Regions from separate parts of the Homo sapiens genome. Here region 2 is linked to region 1. Evidence: fine-mapped expression QTL. A gene starts in region 1. The other region holds a variant in brackets. All regions are shown on one strand. Distances are between the middles of the regions. Region 1 holds the start of ALS2 (alsin Rho guanine nucleotide exchange factor ALS2). Region 2 overlaps ALS2 (alsin Rho guanine nucleotide exchange factor ALS2).

Region 1 (5,383 bases):
TGGACAGGACTTAGCATCTAGCTTTTTTCTCTTATCTCCTAATTTCCAGATCATTCCATATCAGTATATAGAGATCATCCTCTTTGTTTTAGATGGTTGCATAGAATGCTTCCATTCTATGACAGTACCATTAGATTACAAAATGAGAAGATGACTATTGATTTCAGTAGACTTAAGGAAATGGTGAGGAAGACTGGGAAGTCAGAAAGTAGAGGTAGGAAATGAGGTTGGAAAGGAAAAAAGGCAGAAAGTAAAAAAATTAAAGATGAGATAGATAGCAGGTTTATACACTGTAAGTATATAGGAATAAGAAGACAGGCAGAGGTTGAAAATACATGAAGGAGAAGGGATAAGTAATGGAAATGTAAATAAAAAAATGAAATTCTTAGCCCCCCCAACCAACTGAATAGATCTCCCTCCACCCTCCTTGGCCAAGGGGATCCTAAAGAAAACCTTAAAAACTAGTTAAGGCCATGATGCGAAGGCAGGTTGGACATACCTCATTATATCCTCTCCCTTTGGAGTTTAGACCAGCATTAAAGTGGTCTAAACCATTTTCATGAAATGAAAATAGAGATCATAAGACTGACAAAATAGACTCTTGTAGCAATAAGATTATCCAACTCTAACCTGACTATGGTATAGCATTACAAGACAGATAGTTGGCCCTGAAGAAAATAAAAATATTTTACCCCAAAATATATTTCTTTGACATATTTTGAAATGACCCTGCAAAGCTGTCTCTTGTGGGGGGAATTTGCATTTTATACAGAATCACTTTCCTTTTTCAGGTCTTTTCTTGATCCAGGAGAGATTTAACCAAGAGTCTGACACATTTTAAGGTCCTATAACATATGCTACCTGGAAGCTTCATCTACGTAACAAGAACCTTGGCTTCTATAACCCCCTTCATTTTAACTCAAATATTTCTTTCTGCTAACTTCAACTCTTTAGGAAAAGCTTAGCTTTTTCAACCCATCATAAAGTCTCTGAATCCACCTATAATCTGTGAGCACCACCGGCCCCCCATGTATTGATCTATGTCTTTGCCTATAACTTCTGTCTCTCTAAAATGTATAAAACCAAGCTATAACCCAACCACCCTGGGCACATGTTCTCAGGACTTCTTGAGGCTGTGTCCCAGGCCATGGTTACTCATGTTTCGATCAGAGTATATTTAACCTCTTCAAATATTTTATAAAGTTTGTCTTTTTTCATCAACAGAACAAAGTCTTTCCTTTGGGGAGATTAGGGATCCTGAGTTCAGGATCTTCTAAGAAGAAAGAGGGAGAAGAAAAGGACTCGGTGAAAAGGAGCCGGGGCTCGGTGGCTCGCGCCTGTAATCCTAGCACCTTGGGAGGCTGAGGCACGTGGATCAATTGAGGTCAGGAGTTCGAGACCAGGCTGGCCAACATGGTGAAATCCCATCTCTACTACAAACACAAAAATTAGCCGGGCGTAGTGGCGGGCACCTGTAATCCCAGCTATTTGGGAGGCTGAGGCAGGAGAATCGCTTGAACCTGGGAGGCGGAGGTTGCAGTGAGCCGAGATCGCGCCACTGCACTCCAGCCTGGGCGACAGATCGAGACTCCCTCTAAACAAAACAAAACAAATCAAAACTGGTTGCAGGTAGGTTTTGTGGTAGTGGCTGATGGGATTTGGGATTTAAGGAAATTCACCTCTAGTGGTCTCACTTTCCTCAGAGATGTAAGAGACAAAATTTTTTATTTTTATTTTTACCAAAGCGGGTGAGTGAGTAGAGTTCAGTAAGAGGTTAGAAGAGCGTGAGGGCTGGGAACAGCAGGGGAGGGGAATAGGAGATAATCTGAGTAGCAATGTGTAAATGTGACTGTCTTAGGCTCAGCAATATTGCGTAGTCGCACGTGGAAGTCCCGACTGAAGTTGGACACTTTTCGTTCGCAGTGGTGCCAATTCTCAGGGTTGTGTGATTTTCTGCACCGATGCAGGAGTGAGCAAGGTTGGTTGAACTGTTGCAGACTAACAGTTTTGCAGGTGGGCGAAGGATCAGGGAGGAAATTGAGTTGAGGGTGTTGGTGAATAGGATATAGGAGTTTCAGAACCCGACTACACATCTGTCGTTGATGGTCTAAATATTTGCATGTTTGCAGGTCCAGCGATGGCACAATGCCTAGCAGCAGAAGGTTTGCACCCACTGTGCGACATGAGTGGCAGCTCTGGAAAATCATAAAATCATGGGAGGACTTGAGAGTGCAGGCTGGGTGGGGTGGGACTGTGGCTGCGAAAAACAGTGTTATGAAACTGTGCGCGGGACAAGAAAGCTGATTTTACTGATTGTATATTGGGGAGTACTACGGGAATCACTGGAGAGGCCACTTCATTTTCTCCTATCCCACCCCATCTTTTGGGGTTGCAACTAACCAGTAAGTTTACACATTGAGGATACAATGGCGAAACGGGGCCGCGAGGCGATGACGTCATTCGCGGGAGTAGGGGGGAGAAGCGACCACTGTTAGGGTACTGTCCATAAAGGCAATTTGAAAATATTTCAGCCTTTTTACTTTTATACTTCCGGCCCTTGCAGTTTGAGGTGGTAACAAACGACTGCTGCTCCCAACCACTTTCACCACCGCCTGTTACCATGGGAGCGCTCGGGTAGCTAGGCTTGGACGACTCTATTCTACGTCATCATCAAAGCGCATCTCAGGACTGATAGCTCCGCCCTAAACTAAGGGAGAGACTGTGCTCCCAAGTACGTAGCCTGCAGTGCCTAACGCATTCTCAGCAATTTTGACCCCCAACAGACGCCGTCGACAGTCTCCCAAGAACAATTCCCAGGAGCTCGGATTCCAAGAGCCGCCCGCGCCCTCGTTTACCTTCGCTAGTCGCCCTGCAGCCCCGCCCTGTCCGGAGGCCCCGCCCTCCATGAATCAGCTGATCCCGCGGACCCACTGGGTTGCCAAGCTCGCGCCGGATGCGGAGCGCGGTGCTGCCGGTGGAGCTTCAGGTGAGCGAGTGTGGGTCCCGGGTTGGCTATTGGCTAAGGAGGGCTTATCGGCTGGGACCCCTTGTATGCGGAAGGCCGGGGACAGGGAGCTAGGCGGAGGCTGTGGTCGAGGCCGGAGAGCGCCCTGCGGGGGGCCTGCGGAGACGGCGCCCGCATTTTCCCAGCTCTGGGTGCGATCGACTGCTCCTGCCGGTCCAGCAGCGCCCGAGGCGGCCCCTGCCTTGGCCCCAGGTTCTCCCACTTGCCCCGGTCTCTCCCTCCCCAGACTGGGCGCCGCTGCAGTGGTCTCAGCTGCGTGAAATTCCTTCAAGCCCCCTCTTCCCGCCTCCACCCACGCTGCCTTCCAGCTATTCATTCACGAGAATTTCTTGAATGCCCACACTAGGCGCTGAGCTGATAAACTGGGGTCCGTGGCCTGGAACCCTGCTGAGTGTCCCTGGCGGCCTTGCCACAGGGTGCAAATCGCGTTGAAGAGTGGACCAAGGGCTACTTGAAAAGGCGGTTGCGGAGAAAGAAAATAGCTTTGATAATAAGAATTAGTAGTTTAGGCAAGTCTTTGAGCCTATCAAGTAATTCATCAAGAGGAGAAGATAAGTTATTTTGAGAAGCGAAGCCAGAAAAATAACACAGGTCCTTGACGCTGGTGTTCGTCCTCGGATAATAGGGCTGCTTTGGAGACAGGCAACAGTAGACTGGTAGAATCGTTCTATTGCTTAAGGCTTTGATGGTGGAAGAGAAAAAACACTCTTGTTGAAGTGGCATATCCAAGAACAGTGCTTTCTTTCTGGTTTAGGATGGAGAAGGAACTGACTGCTGTACCCAAGTGAAGATCTTTACTCAGTTACCCTTATATTTGGCTATATGGAATAAAATTGTGTGATATGTTTATTCTGAGCAGGTACAAAACTTCAGCAAACCTATTGGTCCCACATTTTCCCCCCCATTTATCATATGATTTGGAGTGACCGGTTGACCTTTGAGTTAATGAATAATTTAAAGCAGTGAAAAATTTTTTGCAGTAAACTACGGTGTTTTAACCTTGATAACATAAGCATAGTGGTTAAGATTCTAGGCTTTGTATCTGAACATACCCAGAGTCACATCCATTTACATCTTTGATTTTGGGCAAGTTATTTAATCTCTCTGCCTCAGTTCTCTTGTCTCTAAATTGGGGATAAAAATGTTTTCCTGATAACAGTACCTTTACGTGTAATGGTTCATGTATCGTATTTATTACAGTGCCTGTTTTATGGTAAATATTCAATACATATTAGCTGTTTTTATAATTAATTCCTCCCACTACATCATGATCCAAACTGACTCTTTTCTTAAGTGATGGGGAAGGGAACTGAATATTTTAAGGAAGTAGCTATAAAATATGATTTCAAGTTGTTCTGTAGTAATTTTGGTGTTCCATAAGGACATTTTAATGTGAAAAAGATACTGACAGAATCTATACATGGTTTGAATTTATTAGTTTCTAAACTATGACCAGTATTAGCAGATTTAAAATTCATAATTATAGCAAGAAAACGTCAAAGTTGTTTAACAGTGTTAAAATTTGAAACTGTAATGATCCAGAAAAATGAAATACCAAACCGATAATTTTGGGAAAAAAACAAAACTTGAGTGGCATTATGCAGGCCATTTACTTTTTAAATGTACTCAATATAAACAGGAATCCCTTCTCTCCAAATTTCAGTTTTTCAGAATTTGGGCTGTCATTTGAAACACTTACTTTGGGCACTTTGACTGTTAAAGAAGCAAAGGGTATGCTAAGAACTTCAATGAGTCTTGATGTTAGTGTTTTTGTAATTAGGTGGAATCTCCTACCTTTTCATGAAAACTGGGTTTAAAGCAGTAGCTGCTGGGTCCATTCTAATGATAATCTCAAAAATGTGACTGACTTGTAAAAATCTACAATTATTTATTAATGTGAGACTAGGTAAAGTATGAGTTGAAAAACTAGGAAGAAAGGCAGAGTGGTGATTTTTAAGCTTGTATAAAGGAAGGCCCGCTTTGGGTACTATGAGGTACCTTTCTCACTCAGAGGCATGCTGTGAGGATTTGTGACTTTTAAATCATTTAGCTCTTTTTATAACTTTGTGGAATTAAATCTACCACGTATTTCAAGTGTATTCAGGATATGAATTTTCCTGGTAGAGAGTTTTAACAGATTTTTTTCTCTTAACCCTTCATTGATGACCAAACAATTTTGTTGTCTGTAATAAGAAAGTACTCGGTTTTGTAGGGTGTCAGTCCTTAAGAAAATGTTAGGTAGTCATCAATAAAATAGCAACAATCTCTGGCTTGTTTCTTTTTCATATTGCATTTAATTTTCCTTTCCCTGTCTCTTATTCATCTGTATATGTGATGGTGCTTTCTTTAGCTTATGTC
Region 2 (5,383 bases), 46 kb after region 1:
TGCACCACTGTGCCAGGCCAAAAATTCTGTATTTTAATAGAAAATACTTTAAATATGTACTTACCACCCAGATTTAGCAGATGTTAATGTTTTGCCATGTTTGCTTTTTTTTTTTTGAGACGGGGTCTCGCTCTGTCATCCAGGCTGGAATGCAGTGGCGCAATCTTGGCTCACTGCAACATCTGCCTCCTGGGTTCAAGCAATTCTCCTGCCTCAGCCTCCCAAGTAGCTGGGGCTACAGGTGTGCACCACCACCCCGAACTAATTTTTGTACTTTTAGTAGAGATGGGGTTTCACCATGTTGACCAAGCTGGTCTCAAACCCCTGACCTCAAGTGATTCACCCACCTCGGCCTCCAAAAGTGCCGGGATTACAGGCGTGAGCCACCATGCCCAGCCCCATGTTTGCTTTTGATTTTTTATCCTAATAGAAGGAATGCTAACATTCTCATCTCATTTCTAGTTTTAATGAGAATACTTTTAATATTTCACCATTAAAAATGATTACTTTAGGTTTTTGGTAGATATAATTTATAGGGTTAAAAAGGCCCTATTTCTAAAAGTTGTAGAGGAATTTTTATAATGTTAAATATCTGAGTTTCCAAATTCCAAAATTCAGTAATCTTAATGTATTAAGGTTTTAATACATTGCTGAATTAAATTTACTTATACAGTTGTCTCTTGGTACCCATGAGGGATTGACTCCAGGACCTCCCAAAGGAAACCAAAATTCAAGGATGTTCAAGTCCCTGATATAAAATGGCTTAGTATTTGCCTATAACCTGTGCACATCCTTTCATATATGTTAAATCATCTCTAGATTACTTATAACATCTAATAAAATATAAATGCTATATAAATAGTTGTAATATGGTATCGTTTAGGGATTAGTGACAAAAAAGTGGTAGAAACATAATTTTTTTATGAAATATTTTTGGTCTGAGGTTGTTGAATCTGCAGATTTGGAACTCACAGATATGGAGGAGCTTTTTCTCCTTTTCTGTTTCCTGGAAGTTCATAGTTTATATGAAGTAGGAATTATTTGTACTTTGAAGATTTAGTAGAATTCATCTGTAAAAATAATCTAGGTTTCATGGGGGCATTTGCTGTAGGGAGTTTTTACTGATTTAATGAATAGGTATGTTCAGGTCTTTATTTCTTCTTATGGCTTTTGTTATTTATATTTCTCTGGAAAATTGTTCATTGCACCCTTGTTTTAAAGCTTATTGGCATAATGTTCCTACCATAGTCTTAAAATGATTACACCAGAATAACTGTAGTTGTACCCCCTGTTTCTCATTCTTACGATTATTCATTTGGGCCTTTTATCTTTTTTATCTTGATCAGTCTTGTCGGCAGTTTACCCCTTTTTAAATTAATTTTTTCAAAAATTAGGGAATCATTTCTTTCGCTTTTAAAAAATTTCATTAATTTCTGCTTTTTATTTCCTTCTACTTTCTTTTTGTTCACCTGTTAACTTCTTAACAACTTCTAGTTTAGCACTTGGTTCATTAATTTTTCAAATTTAAAATTTTTCTAATGTAGCCATTTAAGGCTATAAATTTCCCTCTAATTGTTGCTTTAGCTGAATCTTACAAGTCTTAGTACGTTTTGTTTTTATAGTCATTCAGTTCTAAATATTTTCGAAAGTATTTTTCTAATCCATTATGAATTATTGGACTCACATGCTTGTTGATTTCCAAAATATAGGGGTTTGGCCTTTATTTTTTTAAAATGACAGTTTCAAGAATATGTCTTTAACCTTATGTAGTAACTTTAAAATTCTTGATCTTAATACACCACAATTTTCCATTCTTTTACTTTCAGCCTGTCTGCATTGTTTTGATATATTTCTTATAAGCAGCACATGGATGGACTTATTGTTTGTTGTTGTTGTTGTTTACATTTGAGAACTTCTGGTTTTGACAAGTTTACATTTGTAATTACTGATTTTATATTTATTATTTTAAATATCTTTATTATAATGAATAAAATAGCTTAGTTAACCTATAATGTTGGTGAAATGCTGAATCATAGCCAAAGAAAATAGGAGAAAATGGGGCTGTAGCCAAACCAATAATTAAATGGAGCAGAAAGAAAATTCAATAGTTATTTTTGCAAATAGTAATGCTTGAAGAAAAGCAAGTTTAATTACAGGAAGATGCAAAAAATAGATGGAGACTTGTG[A/G]CAGTTTAAATGGAAAGCTTCTGGGCTTCCTGAAGGGCTACAGCAGTTACTGACCCTGGTTCCTTATTCTGCTGTTGTTGACCTTCCTCTGGTATTTCCGAGTTAGATTCACAGTACTGAAGAATTGACCTTGTTAGAGCAGAAAAATGAGATGACATAAGTTGAAAGCCTCTTGCCTTTTGCACAGCACCATGCCCAGAGCCTGGGTTTTACATAGTTAAAGGCAGCAATGACATCTTTTTCCAACTTCTGTTTACAAAGTCAATATTTAAAATTACCGTAAAGATTTCATTTTCAGAGGAGAGTTTGAGAATGTCTAAAGCACAGCTAGGCTGCCCACATGGCTGTTAGTGGATCTTGGATGATGATGCACAAGCACTTATCATTCATCTAATTGATCACTCAGCTGCTCACATCAGGCTTGCCTGGTGGTTTGATTATTATGCAAGTTTTTTTCCTAATGTGATAAAATATATGTAATGTCATATTTATCATTTTAATCTTAATTGTACACTAATAAGTGTACAATTTAGGGGGCATCAAATACATTCGCAATGTTGTATAACCATCACTATTTTTTCATTATCTCTGAGAAAAACTCAGTGCATGATAAATAATAACTCCCCCCATACTGTCTCCCCCTGCCTGCCTGGCTCTGGTAACCTCTATTCTACTTCCTCTCTGTTTGAGTTTGCCTGTTCTAGGTACCTTATATGAGTCGAATCACGTATTTATTTGTCGTTCTGTGTCTGGCTTATTTCTTTAAGTATAGTATTTTCAAGGTTCATTCATGTTGTAGCATACGTCAAAATTTCATTCCATTTTATGGCTGAATAATATTCTCTTGTATGTACACATTACCACATTTTATCAATCAGTTCATCTGCTGATGGACACTTAGGTTGTTTCTACCTTTAATATTTTTTTATTTTAAAAATCTGAGTAAAAAGTACAGACCTTGCCATATAAGGAAAGAGTGATATTGCCACTATTAGATTAAAAACTCCCAAGAAAAGATAAGCTGATCAGAGATGGTTTCTGGTTCAGATTTCTTAGGAGTGTAGCTTGGCCTCTTTCGGGGAAGATTATAGGTAAGGACATGAGTGAGTCCTGGAAAGTAATGGAGTTCACAAGAGTTGGAACATTTCTGGTCTACTGTAGACTGGGTACTGGGTATTGAGGAGAAATATGGTCCAAGGGAGTTTGTGTTCACTATATCTTACCTCCGTCTCTCAGGAGCAGGTCAAAGCAGAACACTTGTGTAAAATTAAATAAGTCCTCAGCTGATCTCTGCAGTAGAACGTGGAGAAAGAAGTAGGAACATTAGCACCAGCCAAATATAAATAAAATCTGGGCACTTTATCTAAGATCTTTTTTTTTTTTTGAGACAGGCTGGTCACCCGGGCTGGTGTGCAGTGGCACAACCACGGCTCACTACAGCCTCAACTTCCTGTGCTCAAATGATTCTCCTGCCTCAGCCACCTGAGCAGCTGGGACTACAGGTGTGCGCTTCCATGCCTGGCTAATTTTTGTATTTTTTGCAGAGACAGGGTTTCATTATGTTGCTCAGGCTGGTCTCAAACTTCCGGGCTCAAGCTATCCACCCACCTTGGCAGCCCAAAGTGCTGGGATTGCAGGTGTGAACCACTGCACCCAGCTCACCAACTCTTACTGCTTTACCATTAAGTATTTTGGTTTGGTGAGCTAAGCCTGAATGGGTTATTGATCAGCATTAAAATTTGGAATAAAATTTTAACAATGAATTTATTAAAAACTGAATATTAGCTAATTTTTGGCTTCAGTTTGAAATGCTTTTGAAGATCTCAGCATTGAAATCTTCACATATAATCATCTTTATTGTTTCTTGTTAACTGTAATACTAGTTCTTGCAGCTTTTTATTACTTTCCTATAATAAACTCTTGTTAGGTGATCAATAATTGAAGGAAAAAAGAAGAAATTAGAAGTGTTTTAATATCCACACTAATTCTGTTGGAGCAAGGAGCTTTGCTTTTTCTTCCAGTGTTTCTATTTAGCACAGCTGCCTAGAACAATTAGTCTTGCCATTTATTGCTGTGACTTTTGGCTTTGAAATTAACAGGTAATGGTGTCAGCTGGTCTCTGATTATTCATCTTAAATTGTTGGATGCATGATTCATTTCCTAGAATATAGGCACAAGTCTGTGATTAACCGTTTGTATTGCTACCATTTGCTACTTTTCATACTAAAAATCCTGTCTTATAGATAGGGAAATTCTTTTAATTATATCTGGCTTATTTCATTGTATTTCTACTTTCACAGCACCTAAAAAATGTGCATTCTGAAAGAGGTACTTTCTAGTGAAATTTTTTATTTAATGTACATATTACCAATTCCAAAATGATTAACTAAATTTTTTTTTCCTCTGCCTCTAGTGATTTCCTAAATAAAAACCAAGAGCTGTTGCAAGATTTGTCAGAAGTGAATGACGAAAACACTCAGTTGATGGAAATACTGAATACTTTGTTTTTCTTGCCAATCAGACGACTTCATAATTACGCAAAAGTTTTGCTAAAGCTTGCTACTTGTTTTGAAGTGGTAAGCTCCCATGTATACCTCTTTGGACATTTGGAAAGCCAAGGATCATAGTTGTTTGTATGGATTATGCCACCACAAGATCTGGAACTCCAGTAATTTAATATTTACCTGTGTCTAATTAAATTTAATTTTCTTCAGGGAAATGACAGAGGAAAGTATGACTGTAGATAAATTGAGTTTTCTGTGGATTCAGTTTCCCTTTAGGGCCTTATCAAGATGAATAAACTGTATTCATTTTATGAAACTGTCTAAAGTTGAGACTCTATCAGATGCTACTCATTCAGTAGTTGTCAAAATTTATTGGATGCATGCTGACTATGAGTTAAACAGAGCTCTTTAAAGCCCTGGCTTTCTGTATAATGGCATACACCTGTAAGGCAGGGGTGTTACCCAGCCTGGATTCATGCTAGACTTTATGCCAGGTGTTTAGGTTACCTTAGCAAATGCTGAGAGGAATCAGTTACAGGATTTTCTCAAATGTTAACTAGTCCACCCTTACATAAAACTAGTTAGGTGGAATCCTAGGAAGTTAGCACCACACTAGGATATAGATGTATGTTAAAACTGGTCCTGAGACATTCACCTTTCAAATCCCATCGAAATATGTGATTTCATTTTGTT

The links. PIP is the estimated chance that this variant, and not a neighbour inherited with it, causes the effect. A credible set is the group of variants that fine-mapping cannot tell apart.
Region 2: its variant is the best candidate, but not a certain one, in a credible set for the expression of ALS2 in spleen (GTEx, PIP 0.63).

The regions. Positions count from the first base shown.
Region 1 is chr2:201,778,480-201,783,862 of GRCh38, reverse strand. ALS2 (alsin Rho guanine nucleotide exchange factor ALS2) reads left to right here and starts at 2,930. Exons shown (of 34, transcript NM_020919.4): 1 at 2,930-2,986. RefSeq lists enhancers at 2,571-2,640, 2,651-2,880, 2,891-2,960 and a silencer at 3,091-3,260.
Region 2 is chr2:201,732,655-201,738,037 of GRCh38, reverse strand. ALS2 (alsin Rho guanine nucleotide exchange factor ALS2) reads left to right here. Exons shown (of 34, transcript NM_020919.4): 13 at 4,600-4,762. Among named protein-coding and RNA genes, the nearest start is that of MPP4, 37 kb to the right of the region's middle. The variant A/G (reference allele first, on the strand shown) is at 2,187.